Linked DNA regions of Homo sapiens: region 2 is linked to region 1. Evidence: fine-mapped expression QTL. A gene starts in region 1. The other region holds a variant in brackets. All regions are shown on one strand. Distances are between the middles of the regions.

Evidence for each region. PIP is the estimated chance that this variant, and not a neighbour inherited with it, causes the effect.
Region 2: its variant is the best candidate, but not a certain one, in a credible set for the expression of MESD in nucleus accumbens (GTEx, PIP 0.73).

Annotation. Positions count from the first base shown.
Region 1 is chr15:80,987,036-80,992,410 of GRCh38, reverse strand. It overlaps MESD (mesoderm development LRP chaperone), which reads left to right and starts at 2,592. Exons shown (of 3, transcript NM_015154.3): 1 at 2,592-2,832. The coding sequence starts at 2,620. RefSeq lists a silencer at 2,319-2,598 and enhancers at 2,349-2,643, 2,283-2,896, 2,629-2,908, 2,897-3,511.
Region 2 is chr15:80,935,409-80,940,783 of GRCh38, reverse strand. CEMIP (cell migration inducing hyaluronidase 1) reads right to left here. Exons shown (of 30, transcript NM_001293298.2): 24 at 3,899-4,110; 25 at 2,805-2,990. Among named protein-coding and RNA genes, the nearest start is that of MESD, 52 kb to the left of the region's middle. The variant C/T (reference allele first, on the strand shown) is at 3,215.

The DNA of each region.
Region 1 (5,375 bases):
GACTTTTCAATGCATTTTCCATTTGGCTCCCAATTTAACCATCCTGAGTGCCTCACTGATTAACCTAGATGGTGCTGTGGCGGAAGAAGGACTCCAAGAAGACTGGACCTTGTTATCCAGTACACCTCGGCTTAGATTCTTGCCTTGCCGCTGCACTAGCTGTGCAGCCTCAGACAAATTGTGTAATTGTAAAACCAGGATTTCCTCTTATTTAAATTGGAGAGATTATCATCATCATCACATCATCCCTTTGGGCCCGGATCTCCTGTAATCTGCATGAAATTTACTGCATATTGTTTATCTGCTCTGCCAGAGTAAGGATATTGTTATATTCATTTTTGCATCAGTGCCTCACCTGATTCTTGGTTAACAATAGGTCTTTGGTAAATAAAATTCCCCCCAAGTTGAATGGAATCAAGTTCCAAACACTAAAGTAAGTTTCAAATATCCAAATGTTGAAAATGCAATTGATCCAGATGTTTTCATATCAGTGGATTATATGCCGAATTGATTTCCTCCTTAGAGGAAAGTCAGTAGCCCTGAAACTTTCTACACATTCCCAACAATTTCTGTAAAACTTTCAATGATCTTATTCTCTATAACTAGATATGTGGGCCAAGAATCCCAACACGTTTGCCCCTTAACTTTGAAGCTGGCAATATGAATTACCAGGGTGACCCCTCCCAGTAGAGCACATGATCAGCCACAGCTGTGCATGTTTTTTAGTATGACTGCACTAGGATAGGGCTCCAAGCCACTGGGTGGAGCAATGTGCTCTGGGGAGAAAGCTCATGACATTTCCCCTATGATTTCACAAAAGAAAAAATCTTTTTCTTATGAGTTGTTTCTGCTCAACGTCAATAGGAAAGGTCATAGCTTAGCGTGTTTACATACAGATGCATGCATGAATATGTAGAATATCAGCCACTCCTACGGTGTGAGAGAATTTAAATTGCACTGGTCCTAAGAGTGAAGGAAAGCAGGCGTAGTTGCCTACTCAACCTCCACTTTATTCTTTTCCCTTTATAACAATCCTAATTTCATTTGAGATGACAATGTATACAGCTAGAAGACAATTTCTCAGCCTCCCTTGGAGAGCTAGGTTCCAGCCAATGAGATGTAAACAGAAATGTATGCAATGTTCAAGTAGGCTGCTTAAAAGAAGTTGACTCCACTTGAAAGGTGTGCTTGGTTTGGCCTGCCTTCTCCCTTCCTCTGGTTGAATGTCATCTTGATGACTGGAGCTCCAGGAGCCATCCTGGAATTTCTGACCTTGAGGGTGGAAGCCACAGGCTAATATGATAGAAGGATGAGGAAGAGGCTGAGTACCAGATGGCTGAGAAGCCACTATACCAGCCCTAGTTTCGAGTTTACACTGCTTCTGTGAAAGAAAAGTCAATCACAATAAAACCTTTTATCTTGTTTAAACCACCTTAAAAAGTCAGTTTTCTTTTATATGCAGCCTACTAATCCTATCCAAACAAGGCTTGAATAAGGTTTACTACAGCTCTTTTTTGTTGTAATAGCAGAAAAATTGGTAATAAATGCCCATCAATAGGAAAATAAACTATTAATTTAACAATACCAAATAAAACTGTGCAGCAGTATAAAGAATGAAGCGTTTTTTGTTGTTGTTTTTGAGATGCGGGTCTTGCTTTATTGCCCAGTCTGGTCTCAAACTCCTAAACTCAAATTATCGTCCTACCTCAGCCTCCCAAAGTGCTGGGATTATAAAGGCTTAAGCCACCGTGCGGCCTTTGGTTTTTTTTGTTTTTTGTTTTTTAAGGTCTTATGTAATTAAACATTTTAAAGACATCAGCTGATGAGCCGTTTAAAACAAGAAGAATCTCAAAGCATCTTTGGCCAAAATCTTTTTAAGAAACAAAAAGTAGCGTGATTCAGCCTTGAAAAGGATTAGTTAGAGCCTACAGTATTAGGTTGAAATCAAAGAAAGGCAAGCTTTTTTTTTTTTGGATGAATAGTAATGATCTTTTTGGAAAAAAAAAACAAATATTGAAAGCTGGTTGAACTGAATCCTCTTTATTGATGAGGAAAGCAGTGGACTCGAACTATTTATGACTTTCTGAAAAAAGTTGCCCTACCTGCCACTCACTTCTTTTTAACTGGCTGTTCTCAAAGGAAATTGCAAGAGACTGAGGATAAACGTCCGACATCCAGAAATGGGCTTTTTTAGAGCCGAGGCAGCCTCCAGAACTTCCAGTTCCAATTTATTTCACAGGCGAGAAACTGAGGTCAACAGGGACGTTGGTTAGTGGTTCCTGGAGGCCCTGAAGGAACTTTTGGACCTGGCTTGTGCGTTCCAGAGAAAAAGGTCGGCCTCTGACGGAAAACGAAAAATGAGCACTCAGGGACCCACCCAGCCGGGACAGAGCGCCTCAGCCGGACCAAGAGGAGGAGCCAGTGGGGCGGGGCCAAAATGGCGGAGGGGCGGGGCTTCCAGAGGCGGGGGTTAGGAAATGGTACGGGGCGGGGCCCGGTAGGCTAGCGAGGGCCGGGAGGCGGGGCCTCGGAAAGGCGGACAGGAAGGCGTGTGCAAGGCGGGGTCCGGCCCGCGCAGGTCGGGTAAGCGCGTCTAGGGCGCTGCGCGGCGCAGCGAAAATGGCGGCTTCCAGGTGGGCGCGCAAGGCCGTGGTCCTGCTTTGTGCCTCTGACCTGCTGCTGCTGCTGCTACTGCTACCACCGCCTGGGTCCTGCGCGGCCGAAGGCTCGCCCGGGACGCCCGACGAGTCTACCCCACCTCCCCGGAAGAAGAAGAAGGATATTCGCGATTACAATGATGCAGACATGGCGCGTCTTCTGGAGCAATGGGAGGTCCGCGGCGCGCGCACACCCTCCCGGCTCTTCTCTGTGCGGGACCCTGTTCCCTATGACCCCTTACCTGTTCTGTCTTGGGACCTTTCTGACCCCCTAACCTCCTCTACTCATGCCTTGAATCCTTACTGACCCACTGAAGCCACTGTTGACCCTCCATTCCTCCTCTGACCCGCGCGCCCTGCTGACCCTCGCTCCAGCCCTCTGTCATTCCAGTGCCCTGTTCCTCCTGCCATTTCTCAAACCACTTCAATCACGGATCTGCCCCTCACTGTTCAGCTTTGCTCTCCCTTCACCCTTCAGTGCCCTGGTTGTCTTTGCGTTGATTCTTGTGGTCAGTGAGCCCTGCAAACAGGGAGAGTGACCTTTCCCAATCTACTAAAGAGCATTTCCTTCTGTTTTGCGGTGAGTGGGTGGGAGAGTGGGTTGCAGTGAAGATGGTCTTCCTTAATGGTTATCTCAGCTGTCTTCTAAATCAGTATAATTTTAGACTTCCTATTTTGGTATATGTCCCTGCTGGGAATTTTGTGCTTTTTGTGGGTGGATTTATTTTACTGAGGGGAGAAGTATCAATGGCTAATGGCTCTGTATCGTGAAACTCACGCTTTTTGTTCAAAGGAGAGTAAGTTTTCTGGTTTGTCACTTGGACGCACCGGAGTGTGCAGTTACAGGGAGTGTGTAATACGCTTTAAGGTAAAGATTACTGGCCAAAACCACATTGCTGCCTTTTCCCCTTCCTAAGGTGATTGTATCGTCCTGGTTGACTTGCATAGCTGTGGAACCTTGGGCAGGTTATGTCTAGTTTCTAGGCCTCGGTTTCTTTATCTGCAACATGAGGAGGTTAGGATGGGTCCTAAGATTCCTTCCAACACTGATGTTTTGTTATTTTGTGATTATCTCTGTGTGTGTTACGGGAGAAGGGAAAGACTTTCAGACAAGAGTTTAAAATACCACCTGATGCATCTGACTAGAAGAATGCAGGCTTGTGTTTTCATGTGGTCATCAACAGCTGATGGAAAGATTGGGATAGATTTGAGTGTAGAGAGAACGTCCCCATTCACCGTCTCCCTTGCAATCTCCTTGTCTCTTTTTGGACTCCAGCAAATAAAGCCTTTTGATCTGCCAGAGTGAGAACATCACCTCATGAGAAATCCTCCCCTTGACCTACTCAGACCCTGAGCTAGACGAAGAGGGTGCTGAAGAGATGAACAAAGATTGCACTGGGAACAGTAGATAACAGGATGGATGAGTGGGGAGAGACTTTGAAGGCCAAGAAAAACACATTATCTCATTTAATCCTTTTACCCCATCCATGAGGGAGGTACTTATCCCTATTTTCTAGATGATGACATTGAGACACAAAGAGGTTAAATAACTTGCTCCACATCGCACAGCAAGCTAGCTGAGTTTCAAATTCTTTCGCGACTTTTAGAGCCAGTTCTTTGAACTGTTTTACCTGTACTGCCACACATGTTGGTGACAGAAGTGCAAATGAAGGATAGTGAGGAAGACGTGGATTAAGCTAGAAACTGCAGGAGCAGAGTAGAAGGGAGAAATGTGAGATTTTTATACTTTTAACAGGACTTGATGGTTGATTTTGTTTTTTAAATTATTTTTTATAGAGACAGGGTCTCCTTATGTTGGCTGGGCTGGTTTTGAACTCTTGGCCTTTGCAGTCCTCCCACCTTGGCTTCCCAAAGTGTTGGGATTACGGGCGTGAGCCACCATGCCTGGGCAATTGATTGATTTTGTGAATAGCAGGGCCACATAATGTAGTAAAAAGACAGGTTGGCTGGGCGCAGTGGCTCACGCCTGTAATCCCAACACTTTGGGAGGCAAAGGCGGGTGCATCACCTGAGGTCAGGAGTTCAAGACCAGCCTGGCCAACATGGTGAAACTCCATCTCTACTAAAAATAAAAAAATTAGTTGGGCATGGTGGCGGGCACCTGTAATCCCAGCTACTTGGGAGGCTGAGGCACAAGAATCGCTTGAACCAGGGAGGTGGAGGTTGCAGTGAGCCAAGATCATGCCACTGCACTCCAGCCTGGGCGACAGGGTGAGACTCTGTCTCAAAAAAAAAAAAAAAGACAGATTTTGAACTCAGCTTTACCCCTCACTAGCTACTTCATCCTAGTTTTACGTATCTGTAAAGCCAGATAACGCCCTACTTTGCAGGGTGCCATGCGGATTAAATGAGTTAATGTTTGTAGACGCTCTACAGACATGAGGACTCTTCCCCAGTAGCAGTGTTTTTTATGTGGGAGAGCGTATCCATCTCTGTGGGTGCTTTTTTTGTAGGAAGCAGTTCTTCTCCTCTTGTGACCATCTCTAAATCCATACCCTCACTCCTTCCCCAGCAGTGTGAGAAACAGTGCTTCAGTGAGAGGCTGTGCCTCAGAGGTGTGGAGAGGTGAGAATTCCTTCCATTGTGTTACAACTAATTCTGAGTCCCAATTGGTGTAGAAAAACCAAAGGTGGTTATTACATTTTACATTATGATAGCCAGGTATAATGGGAAGAGGCAGTTGGAGGGATTTGGAGC
Region 2 (5,375 bases), 52 kb after region 1:
TCCCTGCTGTCTTGGTTGCTGTCAGCACCTGAGCCCATGAGGCCCAGCTGGGTTTTTATTTCTTGAAGACCCCTTGGTCTTCTCTCTGTAGCACCTCCACTTAATCTGAGCTTCCTTGAGAGGCTTTATGTTTCAAGCCATCCACATCAAGTGATCTCAGAGTAAAGTAGAAACTGACTGTTACAGAGGCCTCGTGCTCAGGGCTGAGAGCAGAGCAGCCATATCTGCATTCCATGCCCTGCGTGGTGGGGAAGCTGGGGAGGCAGGTGAGCACCCGCTTTGAGCAGCTTAGGAGGAAGGCAGTTCAGTGCTGCCCATGGTCACGTCTCCCTGGAGGCTCCCAACATGCTCCAAACCACTCCTGGGACCAAGCACAGAAATGGGATTGGTCCTGAGGCTTCTGCACAAAACTTAACAGTATTCAGGTTTCCTTGTTGCCATTATATATCAGATTATCTAAACTGGGAGTGACCTAAAAGACCATCCAGCCCATGGTAGGTAGCAGCTGCCTTCCCTAATCCTGACCTACAACTTGGATGTGTGCAAGCTGGCTGAACTGCAAAGCCCTGGAAGGCATGAAAGGAGCACGGGCCTGGGCATCTGCCAGCCCAGTGCTCAAATCCTGGCTATGACCAAGTAATGTTGCAGAGCAGCGCTACTGATGGCTGTGCACCTTAAATAATGTACTTGTTTATAATTTAGTAAGAATCATTATAAGAATTCACTGAGGTGGTATTAAGCAAACTTAGCTATCCAGAACACAGCTACAATCACTTAACAGTTTTTTTAACCTGGAAAAAATGAGAGATGATTCAGAGCTTATATATTTCACACTTTGAAATCCCCTCCCTTTTAGCTGACTTATTTTAATTTTACCCCTAATTATAGCAAGCTGGTTGTTAAGTATCCTAGCCCATAGTAGATTATTAGAAGGTAGCTGCTAAAGGCAGGTGCTCTGAGTATAAGAAACAACAAACGTATAAGGCAGAAAGATTTTTAAAAGCCCAAGAGTTTGCAGCCCTTCTCCATAGGAAACAGACCCCCTATAACCCAACTCCTGGTCCCTAAGGCGTTGCTGAATTGAAACACAACACAATGATCAACAGGCATAGGGCTAAGCTATGCTACCAACCAAAAAATGTGCTTAAGGTGACAAGCAGACCAGCCTTAGATTTTTAAGACTTTGATCAAAGAGGTTCAACTTACTTAGTGGAAGTTTCCATTTGAAAAATTCACATCTTTTGAACATTTCACTCATGAGCCGGAAAGAAGAAAATCTGCATGGATGGTATCCCAGGGACTTTACCTTATCAACATCTGTTACTTTAATCATAATATTTCCTAGTGGTATGTGGGGCATATCTCACTCCTCCTCCTCTGGTATTCATATGGGAGGATTTTCCTAAATACTCCTGGCCCCTGGGCCCTCCCCTCATCCACTTCTTCCCATGGGAAGAGAGTGTCTCATATAATTGGTTGGTTTTGGGTATTTGGCTCAGCCCGTAGAGCAGGGGCACTCTGGTCTGTCTTCCATGCTCTGAGGTTTTCGGGCTGGGCCCTATGTGGGGAGCCTGTAATTGCCCAGTGCTCCCTGGGGCGGAGGAGGTAAAATTGGGGATGATATTGGAAAGCTCTATTCTCCAACAGCTTTATCATCAGTAAGGTGGATCACTTCCTCTTCCCCTGCCAGCTTGTCTGCCCCCAGCTGGCGTAGCACTTGTGTGGGGAAAGAGGTGTTTTTTATTGCCCTCCCATCCCAACATTTTACTTATACTTTTGATTCTAAATTTTAATTTTCCCTTAATCAAATTGATGGAGCCATAAATAAGATAGATCATCTGTTATCAGTTTCTTTATCATTGACTTCCATATAAGAATAGAAAACTGGCCATCAACTGATCTTTTACCCTTACTCCTCACAGTTTGCTATCGACGTTGCTGTGGAGCTGGGTTGGCATTCTTAAGACATTAGACGAAATTTCTTTTTAAGAGAGGGGATCAAAGAACTCCCAGAAACAGATACTCTGTTTTCATTATATCTCTATTGAATAGAACCTAGTGCAGGTTAGCAAAAGGGTGAGGGCTTTGAAGACAGACAGATCTAGGTTCAAATCCAGCTGGGTCAGCTTTATGCTATGATCTCAGGAAGTCTCTCCTATTTTCCCTGTGCCTTCTTTGCCCATCTCTCACTCTCTCTGTCACCCAGGCTGGAATGCAATGGCAGTATCTTGGCTCACTGCAACCTCCGCCTCCCAGGTTCAAGCAATTCTCCTGCCTCAGCCTCCTGAGTAGCTGGGATTACAGGCACGCGCCACCATGCCCAGCTAATTTTTGTATTTTTAGTAGAGACGGGGTTTCACCATGTTGGCCAGGCTGGTCTCGAACTCCTGACCTTGTGATCCACCCACCTCGGCCTCCCAAAGTGCTGGGAAGCGTGAGTCACCACACCCAGCTGCCCATCTCTTAATCCTCTGCTCCAAGCAGGTTGTTGTGAGGATTTGAGATAATGTACCATGTTTTCTGGATTCTAAGATTTACTGCCTTCACTTTTTTTTTTCTGAAATATGTAAATTCCCTACAATTCACATGTATATTTAATAGGGTGTTTATTTTACTTTTAAAGCTTAATAGCTTTAAAAATGTCGTTAATGTATGGGACAGTCAGCCTTAGAGTCAAAATGCCTAGAAAGGTGTCTTACATTAATTGGCATTAACTACATGGCTGTTCTTAGACTTATTGGAAAGGCCAAGGGGACAAGATGAGGTTGAGCCACTTTCCTGCAGCCAAGTGGGCGCCTGCTCACCCTGAGTCCTCGTCCCAGTAGTAGTGGCTCCTGCCAGGGTAGCTCTGCTCCACTTTGTCCATCTGCAAGGTCCTCACGAAGACGCCCGTCTTGGACGTTTGCTTCAGCAGGCGATTGTGAACATCCGAGAGGATGGAGAATGTGGTGCCTCGCGGGTAGCAGAGCCCCACTCGGATCCAGTCGCCCCTAGGATTGGAAGTAGAGTCAGGTTACAAGCAAGGGTGTCCAGGCCACAGGGCCTTTGGAGCATGCCTTGGAGAAAGAGACCAAAAAATCTCCACCAAATGACACCTCCACTTTTGTATGGGAAATTTTGAAAGCACATTTGCTGTCGTGGTGACTGAGTTGCAGTGTTCAAGGAGAGAGGGAGAGACAATGGCTGCCCATGAGCAAAGAGCCTGAATGCTTCA[C/T]TGGTGTGTCTCCAGGGCCAACCCTGGGGGTGCTGCATATGGAACTTTGGGAAAAAGACATTCTTTTCGTAGTTAAAGAGCACAGGATCCAAAGGACCTAGGCTGAGCCCCTTCTGGGTCCAGCTTGATTGTAGGGCCGATTTCATCGCTTTGGTCTCATTTCCCACATCTGGTAAATGTCTGTCTCACAGAAATACTGTGACAAGTAAATAATGTGCATAGAAAATACTAGAATCTAAATATATGAAGCCCTATCCAGATGCCCTCGGCCTCAACACTTTATCTCGCAGAGCCTCGTTTCCCTCTCTGTAGGATGGTAACAACAATACCCAGATATTTTTGTCATCTGTCGAGCACTGGCTAATGCCAGGTCCTGGGTGCCCGCCATACCTTATCTCCTTGGGTCCTCATTGCACTCCTGCAAGGTAATACTATCCTCAACTCAAAGATCAAGGAGCTCAGGCTCAAGAGGTTACGTGCGCTGGCCAAGGTTACCCATGCTGGAGCGGGGGCTTGGCCTGTGTCCTTTAATTCTTAACTCCTGGGTGATGTCAACCCCTCTAGGTACTCCTGCATGGATCACATGGGCTAGCCTGTGGTTTCGTTAGACGCAAGTCCAGGACTTTGCAACAAGGCATCGTTATCAGCTTTGAGCTCACTGCTCCTGGCTGGACACCCACTCACTTGTTGAAGTTGATGAGCCAGATGGCGAGTTCGGCGGGGGCCGTCTGGTCCCAGTGGATGGTGTAGCCCTTCTGCAGGGTGACAACCGGTTGGTATTGCTGGTAATGGGTGCTCCTGGTGAGCGCCCCCTCCAGGTAAAGAGGGTGGCTGGGGAAGTCATTCTTGATGATCTTCATTCGCAGGTTACTGGTCTTGTAGGCTTGAATGTACATCTTTTAAAACCCAAAAAGGAAACACACAATGAGGCTATTACGAAGGATTATTCCAAGAGCGTCTGGCTAACATCTGACTATAGACCGCACTTTCAAAGGCACTTTCTCTTTACAGAACCCTTTTTAGAAGGCTTGAATGAAAGAAAGGCCAAATAAGGGGACATCTCTTTCTGCTGATGGACGCAGCCCAGGCCTTACTGTGTAATCCAGCTAATGCTTTCTGTTCATCTTCATAAAAGTGCTCTGTTGAGCTTCCAGTGGAAATTTGAGAAGAGTCTGCATAATAGTCAGATGGCAAATTTTGGACAAAGGACAGAGATGTGGACGGAGGAGGAAGGGAGTAAGAGAGAGAGAGAGAGAACTTTTTTAATTCTACCATAAAATGCAACTCGCCTATAACTGGCAGTTGCTCTGCCTGATTTTAGAGAGTGCCTGGGTGTGTTGGCCTACTTCTCCCTCCTACTCCCTCTCAGTGTCTGGCCCCTGAGGCCAGTCCTTGTGGTGCCACAACACACTGCATGAATAAATGGTGCCTCATTTCAGAGGAAAAACTGAAAGCAAGACTGTCAGCCATTGAGTTCCAGGGACCTAAGAGCCTGGATGCTTTATCCCAGCATTGGTTTAAAACACTGTGTTGGCCGGGCGCGGTGGCTCATGCCTGTAATCCCAGCACTTTGGGAGGCCGAGGCGGGTGGATCACCTGAGGTTGGGAGTTCGAGACCAGCCTGACCAACATGGAGAAACCCTGCCTCTACTAAAAATACAAAATTAGCTGGGCATGGTGGCACATGCTTGTAATCCCAGCTACTAGGGAGGCTGAGGCAGGAGAATCGCTTGAACCTGGGAGGCGGGGGTTGCAGTGAGCCGAGATCACGCCATTGCCCATTGCACTCCAGCCTGGGCAACAAGAGCGAAACTCCATCTCAAAACAAAAACAAAAACAAAAAAAACGCCATGTCCTGTTTTATGGCACATCCCAAATTCATAAGACAATATCCCCATAACTGTGGCCAAGAGAGACAATCACACCAACGTGCAATGATGTTGTGCTTTTGGAAGGAAGTGCTTATCTTCCCCTCTAGTTTTATCGCATATAAGATGGAAAGAGAACCAACCCTGCCCATCTTAGGAAGTTGCCCTGAGTATCAGAAGGTAAAGCGTACATTAAAGCATTTTGTAAGATGTAAAGTGAAGGGAAAATATTATGAATAACCGTTAATAACCAGTTGCCAGTTATGATAATCTGGCAAGCTCTAACGATGAGC